Linked DNA regions of Homo sapiens. The protein of the gene in region 1 interacts with the protein of each later gene in a biochemical or structural test. Each region holds a gene or a part of one and is shown on either strand. Other genes may lie near its edges.

The links. Proteins that work in one complex are often made in the same cells at the same time.
Region 2: the proteins of SOX17 (region 1) and NFIC form a complex in vitro, tested with the Homo sapiens proteins (one study listed by BioGRID).

Annotation. Positions count from the first base shown.
Region 1 is NC_000008.11:54,452,511-54,461,263, reverse strand, and holds SOX17 (transcription factor SOX-17), read right to left. Parts: upstream 3,330-8,753; 5' UTR 3,126-3,329; coding exon 2,819-3,125; intron 2,207-2,818; coding exon 1,269-2,206; 3' UTR 372-1,268; downstream 1-371. UniProt on the Homo sapiens protein: Acts as a transcription regulator that binds target promoter DNA and bends the DNA. Binds to the sequences 5'-AACAAT-'3 or 5'-AACAAAG-3'. Modulates transcriptional regulation via WNT3A. Inhibits Wnt signaling. Promotes degradation of activated CTNNB1.
Region 2 is NC_000019.10:3,376,094-3,383,964, forward strand, and holds part of NFIC (nuclear factor 1 C-type), read left to right. Parts: intron 1-5,618; coding exon 5,619-6,150; intron 6,151-7,871.

The sequences.
Region 1 (8,753 bases):
TTTTCTTACAAAATAGGAAAAATAGCACCTAAACCTGCAGGTTTGTTGAGGCTCACACTGTTTAGAATGGCATTGAACAAACATCTGGCACAGGAAATGCCCATTATAAGTCACCTGTTTCCATTTATGTCTCAATCTCAAATGTGGTGAGACGTGCCACAGCGATTAGTATGGCAGATTACAGGGGCTGATCCCCATCTTTTACTCACAACCCTGTAACTGTTTCTTCTTGATAAAGTAATGGTGATAGATAGGGACACTACACACAAACCATTCATGGATTCTCCCCTAAGTCTGTGCAATCGTCCGTATATGTATTAAATCTAAAAGCAAAAAAAAAAAAAACCAATCAAATAAAATGCTAAAGTGTATTAAAAGTTGTCATAATGCAAATTTTATTTTGATTAGTTTTTGTGACTCCTTTATCTTAAACCCAGCGATGCTTGCCACTTCCCAAGGTGTAAAAATGTGAAGATTAAGGTAAACTGAATGTCGAGGAGTGTAAAGAGATGGCAAAACACAGATAAAAACATCCAAAAAGCCTCTGGGGGCAGGTCAAGCTTATGATTCAACAGTTAGAAAACCAAAATTACTTGGACATCCCCTTCTACTTAAAGTGATATACTGGAATTGAAAATATTAACTGTTAGTTTTAGAAACTAAGATTACTTGAAGTAGGCTCATTCCAGAATGCTTTTCTTTTTTCCTTCCTGAAACAATTACATCAAACTTAGATATCCTAATGTTTATTTTTAGATATACTCCTTAAAGGCATTTATGTTCACCCTTTTCGAGGATGAGAAATTTACATTAACTAATAAACTTAACATTGATCTTAAGAACTGGTTTTTGATAAGACTAGTGTGACAGAGGTACTAGTAGAGCAAAAAAGCAGGATTCCAGATTTTATTTTTTAGAAGATTGAAAAAACACACCCAGGACAACATTTCTTTGATCAATAAACTTTCAGGAAATGGAGGAAGCTGTTTTGGGACACATTCAAAGCTAGTTAACTTGAACTTGGAAATAGGGTTTTGACAATCCAACTATGGGAAACAAATCTCTGAACAAATTTTAAATGAAACCTCACCCCCCCAAACTGTTCAAGTGGCAGACAAAATAAATTACCATAAATTATATGCCAACACACCTTTTAAAAAACAACAACAGCAACAACAAAAACCCAGGAGTCTGAGGATTTCCTTAGCTCCTCCAGGAAGTGTGTAACACTGCTTCTGGCCTGCAGGCTGGGGCGGATCAGGGACCTGTCACACGTCAGGATAGTTGCAGTAATATACCGCGGAGCTGGCGTCGGACACCACCGAGGAAATGGCCCCGTGGCTGTCGGGGAGATTCACACCGGAGTCATGCCCCTGGTAGGGGAGGCCCATCTCAGGCTTGCACACGAAGTGCAGATACTGTTCAAATTCCGTGCGGTCCACCTCCCCGAGGAGCTCGGCGGGCTGACTGGGGTCCGTGCCGTCCCGGCAGGGCAGTGCCTCCGGAGGGGGCGACGGCTGTCCGGGGCCCGGGGGGTGGTGCTGGTGCTGGTGCTGGTGCTGGTGTTGCGGCTGCATCTGGAAGCCGCGCCCGCCGCCCGCCCCGGGCGAGCCCATCGCGCCGTAGTACACGTGAAGGGCGCTGGGTGGCGCCAGGAGGCCCGGAATCGAGGGACCCGCGGGCTCTGGGCCGAGTCGGGGGTGCATGGGACCGGCGGGAGGCTCCGGGGGGCCAGCGTAGTCCGAGACCTGCGCGTAGCTGTAGGTGCCGGCCGCCGGGCAGTCCCCGGGCATCGGGGCGGCGAAGAAAGCCGGGTCGGGGTCCACGCCGTCCAGCGGGGACGTGTCGGGCGTGGGCAACGGGTAGCCGTCGAGCGGAGGCGCGCCCAGACTCTGGCAGTCGCGGTAGTGGCCGCCCATGTGCGGAGGCAGCAGCGGCGGGCCGGCGGGGAAGCCCTGCTCGGGGAACTGGAGGCCCAGGCCGTCCATGGCCACGCGGCCGCCCTCGGGGCCCAGCGCGGCCGCCTGCGGCTCAGCCAGGCCGTGCAGGAAGCCGCCCTCCACCCGCTTCAGCCGCTTCACCTGCTTGCGCCGCCGCGGCCGGTACTTGTAGTTGGGGTGGTCCTGCATGTGCTGCACGCGCAGCCGCTCTGCCTCCTCCACGAAGGGCCGCTTCTCCGCCAGCGTCAGCGCCTTCCACGACTTGCCTGCACAGTGGAAGGAAGGGGGAGAGGGGCGCAGGGCTTATCGGCTGCGCTCCCGCTCCAGGCCCCACCTGGCCCCACCTGGACGCACCTCCCCCCTCAGACTTTGAATTGCGCAACCGGGGTGAAGTTAAAGAGGGAGATCTGGGACTCCTGAGTCCGAGCCCTTGGGGAACACCCGTCCTCTAAAGGCACCCCTTTCTTTTGGTCTCCTGGAAGCGGCTTTCCGCTCACCCATCACCCGGTCGTTCGAAAAACAGAAAAGGACACCTAACTAGGGAAGGGGTCGAGGGATGGACACAACCGGCCCAGTTCAGGGCCAAGGGTGCTCTCGCGCCGCCCGGAGGTGCCGGGAAGTCGCCTTCCCAGAGCCGTTGGACCCGCGCCCCCGGCCACCTGGGGAATCCGGGAGCCGGAGAGCAAGGCGGAAAGCTGCTTTGGAGGGTCGGAGGGCGGGAAGCGGGAAGGGAACCCAGAGCCTTAAGAAAGGACGTGGCCGCTACACACCCCTGGTTTTGGGCGTCAGGCTCGCAAAGAACAGTTTGGGGTTTAAGAAATCGGCCTAGCGATTCGCGCCAGCGCGCCCGGCCGCCTGGGTCTGCGACTCGGACTCACCCAGCATCTTGCTCAACTCGGCGTTGTGCAGGTCTGGATTCTGCTGCGCCAGCCGCTTGCGCTCGTCCTTAGCCCACACCATGAAAGCGTTCATCGGCCGCCGGATACGGGACTCGCCCTTGGCTCGGCCCGCGGCCCCGGCCGGTGCTCCGCTGTTCGCCGGCGCCTCGCCCTTCACCTTCATGTCCCCGATGGGGCTCAGCGACTCGGCCCAGGGGCAGGGGCCCAGCCCGGCCATCACCGCGGGCAGCGCGCTCTGGGTCTGGCTCTGGTCGTCACTGGCGTATCCCGCATCCGGGCTGCTCATGGCGCTCCAGGCCTGCCCCGCTCCCCTCAACCCTCCGCCGGACGCGCCGCCTCCCCCGACCCGGGGGAGGGGGTGGGGAGTGAGGCACTGAGATGCCCCGAGGGCTGCGCGGGTCTCCCGGCCCGAAGCCGCCGCCCGTGTTCTGGCCTGTCGCGGTCTGGTCTACAGCGTACCCAGGGCCCCCAGCCGGCCTAGTGACACTGCGGGCGCCCCTGGGCCGCGGGGCCTTTTCTGCACAGATGTGGCCAATGGAGCGGCGAGGGCGGGCCGGTCCCGCGTCGTTAGGCCCACGCCCAGGCCGTGGTCCGAGTCCCACGTCCCAGTCCAACCCCACGCCCGCCCCTTGCCCCTCCCCCGGCCCCGCGCCCAAGGCTACACCTGCCCCCGGGAAAACTAGCCGGAGCTGGGCTCTGGCGCCGCGTCCTCTCCCACCGGGGTTAGGGAGACTCGAAAAGCCGTCTGGGAGGGCTGATTGTACCTTGGAATCGACGTACTTGCCCAAGGTCGTTTAGATGAACATACCGAGCGTCCATTCTATTCTCTTTAAAGCACATCTTTTTGCAGAAGCCGAGGGTGTTTCAGTGGTGGGTGACCTAGTTTACTTCCAAGGAACTGCATGGGCATCTTCAAATGTGTTTTCTCAAATGCGAAAGACACCGTTGATAATAAATTTAAAAATACAATTTTTCCCCCAGGACTCAACTTGCCTGTGTTATATTCAAAATGCTGTGTCCAAGATAAATCCTAATTTTCTAAAGCAAGATTAAATATGGAACGACGTTCTGTATCCAATATTCCTTCACTCTAAAGAATAAAGCATTTACTCATGACAAGCCAACCAGTTTTTATGTGTATCTTATTATACACATCATGTGAAAGTACGAAAATGTATACATGATGTATATAAGATACGCATAACAAAACTGTTTCTCGTATGTGTTCAGTAACAGGTGAGCCTTAATACTGATTTCTAAAATGTAAAGACAGCAGCAATATTTGTCTAAATGTCCGAGTTTGTTTGGGGGAAGAGAACAATCTGTTTTAGCTGCAAAGTAACTGTGGTTCTTACAGTCAGTTTAAAGCGGTTATTCTGGCAGATAATTAGATTTCTATAAGTTTCTTTAGACTGGAATGAAATCTGAATGACTATTAAACTTGTGTTTCGATCTGGAAAAAAAAAAAGTTTTCAGTGGGACTTTTAAAACAAGCCGTTATACAACACTGAGAAATGACACAGCCTGCCACTGCTATTCCTAGCGCCCTCCAGCATTAGCAAAGAAGCATATCCTCATATTAACCCTGAGGTAGACTCTATCTTACAGGAAAGGAAACGGAGGCAGAGAAGTTAAGGAACTTGCTGGAGACTACAGCGTTGAGAAGGTGGAATTCACACCCAGCAGTCCGCCTTCAGACTTGCAGCTCTTAATAATCACTAAGCCAGGCTGTTGTGTTTGTGTATTTGTGTTGGTTTTTGAGGGCAACTAACAGCCATTCCTGCATAATTAGAGATAACTTTGCAAAGAAATCAATATACGAATCTCCAGAACAGATTTTCTTTATTATGAAGGCGTGATAAAAAAGTAGAGCTTACACCTGGAATCTGAGAAGTAAAATGCTGCTGCTTTGAGTGTGATACTACAACAACAAGACCGTCTGTCCAGTCTTGCTTATTAGTGGCATCCATAAAAATACAAAACTTTTGCAAACTCCTGGCCTTCAGTTTCTCTGGCATTGCTTTTTCTCAAAAGAACTCTTACACAATTGTTTTAAGCCAACTTATCTTTAATTCTGCAAGTATCTGTGAAGCCTTGGCTAGGGGACAAGTTAAGAAAGTGTTTCTAGTTCCTGGGTCTCTAAGATTCAAACAAGAAAAAAAATTAAATCTGCATAAAGAAATCATAGAGAGGTGTTACTTCTAGTTGGTAGTTTTGAAAGCGGTTGATTTTAGACAAATTTAAATGATGATGTACTTTTAAAGCTTTATTTTTTCTGAAAAAAAAATGGGCTTCAGTATAAAGCAAAAGCACATTGCAAATGATTAAATAAGCAACAAAACTATAGGAGGAGAGAGAGCAATCTACAAATTAACCCCGTAGTACCTTGTTTTTTGCTGTTTTTTTTTTTTTTTTTTTTGAGATCTTTTCTAACTTTTCTGGATAATAATAAATATTTTTCAAAGCTCTCAAAGCAGAATTTTCTCTTAACACTAAATCTTTTATGAGCTAAGGAGTTTTCCTAGAATAAACATTGAAAATTAAAAAACAATATCTGGTCCAGAATTCATTTTTATCTGTCTAGTCTGTTTGACTAATTCCTTAAAAAACACTACAGGAAATACAATCCAGGTGTGAGTCCAAAAAATGTACATATACAGATTTAGCCCTGTACACTTTCTTCATCCTCATGCTCTTCCTCACCCAGCTCATTATTGGGAGAGGTGCGCTTGGGAGCCAAGAAGGTGGAGAAAATGATGGGGAAGAAAACGTGGGGTTTCCATATTTTATTGATTTATTTACTTATTCATTTATTGAGACAGAGTTTCCCTCTTGTTGCCCAGGCTGGAGTGCAATGGCGCGATCTCGGCTCGCTGCAACCTCCGCCTCCCCGATTCAAGCGATTCTCCTGTCTCAGCCTCCCGAGTAGCTGGGATTACAGACGCATGCCACCACGCCTAGCTAATTTTTGTATTTTTAGTAGAGACGGGGTTTCATCATATTGGTCAGGCTGGTCTCAAACTCCTGACCTCAGGTGATCCGCCCGCCTTGGTCTCCCAAAGTGCTGGGATTACCGTCGTGAGCCACCGCGCCCGGCCGGGTTTCCCTATTTTTATTTGCCCTTGTTCTTGGGGACTGATCTTGGTCTGGTAAGAGAAATCAGGTGAAAGTACACAATCATAGGTTGGAGTAGGAGCTTCAGATTTTGACGCCCCTCCCCCTACTTCTTATAACACCCTCCCTGAGATCATAAATTCACAGTTTACAAATTTACAGGGGAGGAATTGTGGTGGCTTTCCAAGACTAGTCCCTTTTACATACTGTGACCTAGTTAGATCTCATTTCTTCTGATCATTCGCTTGTCTTATATTTCGGGGGGCAGTGTGGAGGGCGGCGACGTCGCTGACCCGCGCGCGGTGTGTGGAGCCTTCTATTTCAGTCTCTTCACTTTAATACGTGGTGCCCCGGGACGTTATCAGAGCCAGCCACAGATGCCACATGTAAAGCAGCAAACATCCGGAGTGGCTTCCTGCAAGCCTTGCTTTTCTCAACACAAGAGATTTACGCAGGGGGTTGGGGGAAACAACTTTCACAAGTAAGAGCCGAGTACACCGCTCGCATAGCCGTTCGGGTGCGTTAGCACTGCACGGTCCAGGGTCGCAGGGCTCCTGGCTACTAATTGCGCTCACGTCCCCGGGTCCTTGGGCCGGACCCGAGGCTCTAAAGGCTGGGCAAGGAAGCGACTAGCGCACCAAGAAGCTGTGCCCGTTGCCAGTTGGGGCCTTTGGTCAGCGGGCGCAGAAATTAACTCGGGTAGGTGGCGAACCGTGGGGCTGACCTGGAGGAATCAGAGCCACGCTTATCCGTGGGCCCCTGAGTGACCAGGCAAAGGCTGGGTGATTTCCGGCAGGCTTTTGTGTTTTCGATGCTGGGAAAGCAGGGGCTGGAGGAAGGACACTCAAGTCGATCGGGAAGGACCCGTGGGCACCTAGGCAGATCCGGGTTGGCGCTGGAGAGCAAGTCTGTGGGGGCGGGGGAGGGGAGTGCGCGCCGCAAACCCTGGGAAAACTCCAGGCTGCCCGTGGATGACTAGACAATGGTATCCCTGAACAAAGAACAACAATAAGGCCTTTGCATTTATAAATCGTGCGCGGGCGGCTGCCTCCCGGAGGCCAGCACGAGGTGGCGCGCGGCGGTGGAGCGCGGCCGAGGGTCCCGCACCTCCCAGGTAGGGCAGCGCAGCCGGACGCCGCCGATTCGCACCTCGCGTCCCGGCGCCGTCTAGGCGGCGGTGCCGCGCCCCTTGATACCTTTAACGTCTCCTCCTTGTCCCCGGGCCAGTACCCCGTGGGTCCAGGATGGAGGTCGAAGGTCGCGGGCGGGAGGGGAGTGTAAGGGGGGAAGGAGTGGCCCGGAAAATCGCGGCCACCGGCTGTGCCGCCGCGCGCCCCCTGCCTTGGAGGCCCGCACCAGGTCGGAGCCCTGCAGATGCTGCAGTGCGGGTCCGATCCAGCCCCTGCGGTGCTCCACTGCTGCGCCGGCCTCTCCCCGTGAGGACTGAAAAAAAGGGCGACAGCGAGAGGGGATTTGGGGACGCGCGTTACCCCCGATGACCGGAGCATGCATTTTACTTGGACGCCTTCTCCCACTCCCTCCATGCGCATCCCTCCCTGGTTCCGCGGTGTCCCCTCGAGGCTGCCCCCCAACCCCTCCCTGGCAGCGGGCGACTCTTAGACCGTGTCCCCGTTCCCGCTTGGCCCCGCCTGGGATTTGCACAGGCGAAGCAGGAAATGCGCTGTTCCCGGTCCACTTCCCTCTTCAGAAACTCATCCGTGGAGTGTTTCTTAGATCTCCCCACCTCCAACTGTGGCCCCGGGTTGAGGTGTGTGGGCTACTTCCCTTTATTGCCTGGGCTGTGGAACCTCATACTCCAGGGAGAGGTGGCGTTGGGAATGAGGGAGAGGGTCCCGTTCCTCACCCAGGACTCGTCACATACACAGTACTGTCTTGCTCACCCCTTTCAGATCTGCCCCTCAGCCTTAAAAGGGATTTCAATAGCGGCAGAGCTTCTATGCACTCGGTGCTGCAGGTGAACTCCTACTCCCACTTTCCCCATCCACACCCTAGGAGAAGGCAGGGCTTTCCTTGGAGACCTGTGTCCTCACCTGACCAGACAGCCTTATCAGCAGCGTGCCCACTGTGCGCAGAGCACTTCCACTCCCACCCGAAGGAGAATAGACGCGGTCCCTGCCTCGGAGGAATGTACCGTGCCGTGTCATTAGTCTTCCTCCCTGATTCATTAACTTCCAGCTGGGTGTTCTAGGTATGGTCTTCTGTAATAATTTGTTCCTGGCATGTAAAGGTGATGCTGACATCAGTAGGTCAAGCGCTTTGAGATTTTTTTTTTCTAGTAGAGATAATAGGTTTCCTTTCCACCCTGAAAACTCTGGCTTGCCAAGTTTCCCTGGTAAGCAGGGCTGGATTGTGCCAGATGGTTAGGGCAAGGTGTGCATTTTGTTATCATGGAAGTGATCAAAGTTAAATAGGGCATAGGACAGGCCACTTCTGACAACACTCATTACCCACTGTTTTGTACAACTTTAGCCACACACATGTCAGATTTTGAAAGGGTATCTGAATTGGCTTCCAAAGTTTCTGAACAGAAGAGAAAATGTTAGGGATCCTTGCTAGATTCCTTTGCAGTCAGTATTTGGTTAACCTGTTAACTAAATTTTCTTCTCTGTCCACTTTTTGGACCTTGCAAAACTGTCAATACTCTTTAATAACAACACAGGGTCTTTGGTACATTTCATCTTTATGTCCTGAGAGCCCACGCAATTCACTGGTCTTCAATATATTCTTCAGTATACTGTTACAGCTGTCATGGATGGAGTCCTAAGGTCATCTCCCTACA
Region 2 (7,871 bases), on another chromosome or scaffold:
TCAGGCTGTTCCCTGCTTCCTGGAAGATTGTCTGCAATCAAAATGATCATCGCAGCAATCGCGTCCATAGTAATGAAAATACCCCAGCATCTTAGAGGGGCCGAGGCGGGAGGATCGCTTGAGCCCAGGAATTCGAGACCAGCCTGGGCAACATAGCAAGACCCCCATCTCTACTAAAAGTACAAAAATTAGCTGGGCATGGTGGCGCACCTGGAATCCCAGCTACTCGGGAGGCTGAGACATGAGAATCGCCTGAACCCAGGAGGCGGAGGTTGCAGTGAGCTGAGATCATGCCACCGCCCTCCAGCCTGGGCAACAGTGTGAGACACTGTCTCAAAAAAAAAAAAAAAAAAAAAAAAAAAAAAAGGAAAGAAAATAGAAAATATCCCAGTGCCTTAGGAGGCCGAGGTGGGAGGATCACTTGAGCCCAGGAGTTTGAGACCGGCCAAGGCAACACAGTGAGTGAGACTCCATCTCTGCAAAAATAAAAATTAGCCAGACATGGTGGTTTGCACCTGTAGTCCCAGCTACTCAGGAAGCTGACGTGGGAGAATCGCTTGAGTCTGGGAGTTCAGGGCCCAAGTGACCTAAGATCGTGCCACTGCACTCCAGTGAGACGCCTGTCTTTTTTATTTATTTATTTATTTATTTTGAGACGGAGTCTCGCTCTTGTTGCCCAGGCTGGAGTGCAATGGCGCGACCTTGGCTCACTGCAACCTCTGCCTCCCGGGTTCAAGTGATTCTCCTGCCTTAGCCTCCCGAGTAGCTGGGATTACAGGCGCCTGTCACCATACCTGGCTAATTTTTTGTGTTTTTAGTAGAGATGGGGTTTCGCCATGTTGGCCAGGCTGATCTCAAACTCCTGACCTCAGATGATCCACCCACCTCGGCCTCCCAAAGTGCTGGGATTACAGGCGTGAGCCACCACACCAGGCTGAGACCCCCATCTCTTAAAAAAAAAAGTAATAAAAATCACAGTAGCCCCAGCACTTTGGGAGGCCGAGGCAGGCGGATCACGAGGTCAGGACATTGAGACCATCCTGGCTAACACAGTGAACCCCCGTCTCTACTAAAAAAAAAAATACAAAAAATTAGTTGGGCATGGTGGCGGGTGCCTGTAGTCCCAGCTATTCAGGAGGCTGAGGCAGGAGAATGGCGTGAACCCGGGAGGTAGAGTTTGCAGTGAGCTGAGATCGCATCACTGCACTCTAGCCTGGGTGACAGAGCGAGACTCTGTCTCAAAAAAAAAAAAAAAAAAAAAAAATCCAATAGCAATATAAGTTGTAATGATAACAATCATCGCATCATTAATAACAATGTAGTCCTTTGAGAGCTGGGGGGAGGAAAACAGCTTTCTGTGCTAGGAAGGGATCACCCCTGTCCGAAATGCCCAGCCCAGCCTGGTCAAGGCAGGGAGATGGAAAGGCAGTTTTGCTTCTCTTTCTCTTCTTGTTCCTTGTATTTATTCCACCTTGAGGCTGAGAAACTAGGTCCCAGATGTTTTTAATTTGTTTTATTTTATTTTTTATTTTTTTAGAGACAGGGTCTTACTCTATCCCCCAGGCTGGAGTGCAGTGGCACAATCACAGCTCACTGCAGCCTCGACCTCTGAGGCTCAAGTGATCCTCCCACCTCAGCCTCCTAAGTAGCTAGGACTACAGGTGTGCGCCACAGCAACTATGCCCAACTAATTATTTTTGTAATTTTTAGTAGAGACGGGGTTTCGACATGTTGGTCAGGCTGCTCTCAAACACTTGGGCTCAAGTGATCTCTCCACCTCGGCCTCCCAAGTAGCTGGGACTACAGACGCGCACCACAAAAATTATGCCCAGCTAATTTTTGTAATTTTCGTAAAGATAGGGTTTTGCCTGCCGGCCACAGTGGCTCACACCTGTAATCCCAGCACTTTGGGAGGCAGAGGCAGGTGGACCACCTGAGGTCAGGAGTTCAAGACCAGCCTGGCCAACATGGTGAAACCCCATCTCTACTAAAAATACAAAAATTAGCTGGGCATGATAGTGTGTGGCTGTAATAGTGTGTGCCTGTAATCCCAGCTACTCGGGAGGCTGAGGCAGGAGAATCTCTTGAACCTGGGAGGCGGAGGTTGCAGTGAGCCGAGATTGTGCCACTGCACTCCAGCCTGGGTGACAAGAGTGAAACTCTGTCTCAAAAAAAAAAAAAAAAAAAAGGAGATGGGGTTTCGCCATGTTGCCCAGGCTGGGATTGAACTGGGCTCAAGTGATCCACCCACCTCAGCCTCCCAAAGTTCTGGGATTACAGGCGTTAGCCATAGTCCCCAGCTGAGATCCCAAATGCTATGCAGACTCAGTTTCCCTTGCTGGAAAATGGGAAGAATGGGAGGGGCCTCCCCACACCCAGACAGGGAGCTGGGGGCCTCCCACTGCCCCACATTTCTCTTCAAGGGGCTGCTGTTATTTTCGTGGGGAAGTCAGATGAGTGCAGGTTCCAGTCCACCTCTGTCCCCCATGGCCGGGTTCCCCCTCAAGGCCTCAGTTTCCTCATCTGTAGCATGGGTGTTGTGACTGCCCTCAGACACCAATTTGTCATGATTTGGGAGTAGGTTGAAGTCCCAGCTCTGGCCCAGTCTCAGCGCCTTCCCAGCCCTCGGATTTTCCATCTCCAGGGTGGGTCTGCAGGGAACGGGGTGGCCCCTCTCCCCAGTTCTGAACCTTTGTGGCTGAGCGTCTGCTTCTCTGGTCTGTTTCTGTATCAGCACAGTGGGTTCATGGAAAGGGGAAAGGAGGGAGAGGACTCCACCCGGGATTTCTCCTCCCTCTGATTAATCCTGGTGCACTTGAATCTCTTATCTTTTGATGCAGAAATCCCCCCACCCTTCCAGCAGCCCTCAACCTCCAGGCGGGCCTAGTGTCTGCCTGTGGATCTCAGCCAGGCCTGTCTGTACATATGCTCTGTAGGAACAAGCTTTCGTAGTCATTTTTTGTTTTTTTGTTTTTTGTTTTCCCAAGATGGAGTCTCGCCCTGTCACCCAGGCTGGAGTACAGTGGAGTGACCTTGGCTCACTGCAACCTCCACCTCCCAGGTTCAAGCAATTCTCCTGCCTCAGCCTCCCAAGTAGCTGGGATTACAGTCATGCGCCACCACGCCTGGCTAATTTTTGTATTTTTAGTAGAGACAGAGTTTCACCATGTTAGCCAGGCTGGTCTTGAACTCCTGACTTCTTGATCTGCCCGCCTCGGTCTCCCAAAGTGCTAGGATTACAGGCATGAACCACCGCGCCCAGCCGGGTTTTTTTTTTTTGAGACGGAGTCTCACTCTGTCGCCCAGGCTGGAATGTAGTGGCGAGCTCTCGGCTCACTGCAACCTCTGCCTCCTGGGTTCTCCTGCCTCAGCCTCCTGAGTAGCCGGGACTACAGGCGTGTGCCACCATGCCCAGCTAATTTTTGTATTTTTAGTAAAGATGGGGTTTCACTATGTTGGCCAGGCTGGTGTCAAGCTCTTGACCTCAAGCGATCCACCTGCCTCAGCCTCCCAAAGTGCTGGGATTACAGGCGTGAGCCACTGCGCCCAGCCTCATTTTTCATTTTTTTTTATTTCTTTCTTTTTTTTTTTTTTTTTTTTTTTGAGTCAGGAGTCAGGGGTCTCACTACGTTGTCACCCGGGCTGGAGATCAATGGCGCAACCTTGGCTCACTGCAGCCTTGACCTCCTGGGCTCAATTGATCTTCCCACCTCAGCCTCCCAAGTAGTTGGGACTGCAGGTATGCATCACCTAGCTAAGTTTTGATTTTGTAGAAACGGGGCCTCGCTATGTCATCCAGGCTGGTCTTGAACTCCTGGGCTCAAGCAGTCCACCCACTGTGGCCTCCCAAAGTGCTGGGATTACAGGTGTGAGCCACCATGCTTGGCCGCCGACCCTAGTTTTTTTTTGTTTTGTTTTGTTTTTTGAGATGGAGTCTTGCTCTGTCGCCCAGGCTGGAGTGCAGTGGCGCAATCTCGGCTCACTGCAAGCTCCGCCTCCCGGGTTCATGCCAATCTCCTGCCTCAGCCTCCTGAGTAGCTGGGACTACAGGCGCCCGACACCACGCCCGGCTAATTTTTTTGTTTTTTTTTCAGTAGAGACGGGGTTTCACTGTGTTAGCCAGGATGGTCTCAATCTCCTGACCTCGTGATCTGCCCGCCTTGGCCTCCCAAAGTGCTGGGATTACAAGCGTGAGCCACCGTGCCCAGCCTTGTTCTTTTTTTTTTTTTTTTTTTTTTTTTGAGACAGTGTTTCACTCTTGGCACCCAGGCTCCCAGGCTGGAGTGCAGTGGCACAATCTGAGCTCACTGCAACCTCTGCCTCCCAGGTTCAAGCGATTCTCCTGTCTCAGCCTCCTGAGTAGCTGGGATTACAGGTGTGCTCCAATATGCCTGGCTACATTTTTTTGTATTTTTAGTAGGGACGGGGTTTTGCCATGTTGGCCGGGCTGGTCTCAAGCTCCTAACCTCAGGTGATCCACCTGCTTCGGTCTCCCAAAGTGCTGGGATTACAGGTGTGAGCCACTGCGCCCAGGCTTTTTTTTTTTTTTTTTTTTTTTGTGACAGTCTTGCTCTGTCGCCCAGGCTGGAGTGCAGTGGCACCATCACAGCTCACTGCAGCATTAAACTCCTGGGCTCAAATGATCCTCCCACCCCAGCCTCCCAACTAGCTGGGACTACAGTTGCAAACCACCATACCTGGCTAATTTTTGTTTTTTTGATTTTGTTTGTTCATTTGTTTTGTAGCGATGGGGTTTTACCATATGGCTCAGACTGGTCTCAAACTTCTGGGCTCAAGCAGTCCTCCCTCCTCGGCCTCCCGAAGCGCTGGGATTACAAGTGTGAGCCATTACACCCAGCCCAACCCTAGCTGCAATAGGCAGAGAATAGGTCCCTGACATCTTTGTTCTCCCAACCTCAGTTTTACCCGTCTGTACAATGGGTTGTCCATGAGCCTCCACCTGGCCCCCTTAGCTTGCTCCATCTGCATGCTGGGGTTCAACATAGGTCCTCCACGGCTGGGCATGGTGGCTCACACCTGTCATCCCAGCACTTGGGGAGGCCGAGAGCCGAGGCGGGCGGATCAGAGGTCAGGAGATCGAGACCATCCTGGCCAACATGGTGAAACCCCATCTTTCCTAAAAATACAAAAATTAGCTGGGCGTGGTGGTGGGCATCTGTAATCCTAGCTACTCGGGAGGCTGAGGCAGGAGAATCGCTTGAACCCGGGAGGTGGAGGTTGCAGTGGGCCGAGATTGCGCCACTGCACTCCAGCCTTAGCGTTAAGAGCAAGACTCCGTCTCAAAAAAAAAAAAAAAAAAAATGATCCTCCACAAACTTCCGCCTTGATTTGTGCCTCTCACATAGTCCAAGTCTGTTTGCTCATCTGGGCGATGGGTTCTTGCAGGTCCCTGATAAACTTCTCCTGGGTCCCCCGGGCCTTTTGCGTGCCTCCGGCGGCGTGCACGGGTCCGCAGCGACCCCCTGCCCACCTCTGCCCAGCCCCTCCCACTCTGCGGGTCTGTTCAGGGCCCCTCCGACCTCAGCCTTCGGGGCCGGGCAGTGGGTCCGCCCTCTGCGTCCCTGGCGCTCCTGACCTCTCGCCTCTCCGGCCTGCAGGATGAGTTCCACCCGTTCATCGAGGCCCTGCTGCCTCACGTCCGCGCCTTCGCCTACACCTGGTTCAACCTGCAGGCGCGGAAGCGCAAGTACTTCAAGAAGCACGAGAAGCGGATGTCGAAGGACGAGGAGCGTGCGGTCAAGGACGAGCTGCTGGGCGAGAAGCCCGAGGTCAAGCAGAAGTGGGCGTCGCGGCTGCTGGCCAAGCTGCGCAAGGACATCCGGCCCGAGTGCCGCGAGGACTTCGTGCTGAGCATCACCGGCAAGAAGGCGCCGGGCTGCGTGCTCTCCAACCCCGACCAGAAGGGCAAGATGCGGCGCATCGACTGTCTCCGGCAGGCGGACAAGGTGTGGCGGCTGGACCTGGTCATGGTCATCCTGTTCAAGGGCATCCCGCTGGAGAGCACCGACGGCGAGCGCCTGGTCAAGGCTGCGCAGTGCGGTCACCCGGTCCTGTGCGTGCAGCCGCACCACATTGGCGTGGCCGTCAAGGAGCTGGACCTCTACCTGGCCTACTTCGTGCGTGAGCGAGGTGAGGTGTGGTGGCCTGAGCGGAGCGGCCAGCGGGGAGGGTGTCTGATGGTGGTGACACGGGGCCAGGAGGGCCTGAGGGAGGAGGCCAGTGCGTGTGGGTATGATGTGGTGGTCTGAGAGGGGAAGTGGGCCTTGGAGAGTGCCCAATGGGGGCGACACGGGGCACGGAGCATCTGAGGGAGGAGGCTGGTGGGTATAGATGTGATGTGGTGGTCTGAGAGGGGAGGCGAGTCTAGGAGAATATGTAAAGTAGGTGATATGGCACAAGGAGAGTCTGAGAGAGGAGGCCAGTGCATATAGATGTGATGTGGTGGTCCAGGCAGGGCAGCAGGCCTGGGAGAGCATCTGATGGGGGTGACATGGTGCAAGGAGGGTCTGAGGGAGGAGGCTGGTGCGTGTAGATGTGATGTGGTGGTCCAAGCGGGGAGGCGGGCCTGGGAGAGCGTCTGACGCCGGGTGACACGGGGCAAGGAGGGTCTGAGGGAAGAAGCCAGCATGTGTAGATGTGATGTGGTGGTCTGAGGGGGGAGGCAGGCCTAGGAGAGCGTCTAATGCAAGTGATATGGTGCAAGGAGCGTCTGAGGGAGGAGGCCAGTGCATGCAGGGCCCAGGGTGGCTGCTGATGGGATGTGGAGGTCAGATGGAGGAGGCAGGCCTAGCAGAGGTCTCAAGTGAGAGATGGTACAAGGAGGTTTTTTTGACAGAGGAGGCAGGTGGGCTGTGGCGCTCCAATGGTAGAGGCAGGATCTCACCCTCACGTCTGAGGGAGGAGGCAGGAAGGCCCTTGAGGTCTCAGGGGGATGAGAATGTCCTAGATGGTCTTGGGCACAACGGACGGCCTTGCTGGGAGCAGGGGTGAGGAGAGGAGAGGGACAGGCCATCCCAGCCCTCCGAGGAGAGCCAAGAGAGTCCTGGCACCGCTTTCTGTGAATGCTTGTTGGTTGATTGACTCTCAGACCATGCCAGCAGAGGCCTGATGAGCCTGGCCCTGCCAGAGGGGTGTTTGCCGGTGGTCAAATGCCTGATGTTGAGACCAGCTAGCTCTGTGGGGTTGAGGAAATCCAAGGCGGCTTCCCAGAGGAGGAGGTGCAGCTGAGCTCAGCTCTGCAGGATGGCCAGGCCACAGTGAACAAGGAGATGCCCCAGGGGTCCTGGCAGGAGCGTGGAGATGAGAGGCCTGATGCCTGTGCCTCTGGTCCCGGTGCTAAGAGCAGGGTTGGTCCTGCAGCTTCTTGGCTGCGTGGCCCTCTTGGACTTCAGTTTCTCTTGCCTGCCAAATGGTGGAGATGATCAGTCTGTAGCTGGATGGGGCTATGGGAGGTTCCAGAAGATCATGCGTGTAGCCACGTGCGAGGTGTCAGCTGCATCCCAAGACCTGAGTGGGTGCACAGCACACCCCTGCCATGCCCATCCAGGCCGTGTCTGGAGCACGCGTGAACCCCCACACACCCAGGGGCTGCCAGAGCATGTGGGATGGGTGTACGCCAGACGCAGACCCACACAGGTCACCAGCCCAGCCCCAGCCCAGGCAGCACTCTATAGAAACAGGCAGTTGCACAGCCTGAGAGGGAGGGGCATTTGCCCGAACAGGAGGACCCTGGGGCCAGACTGCCCATGCTCCAGACACAGCCCTTCTTTTCCCCAGCTGTATGGACACATCCCTTTTCTGTGCCTCAGTTTCCTCCTTGGTGCAATGGGAGTAACAGCCATGCCACCTTC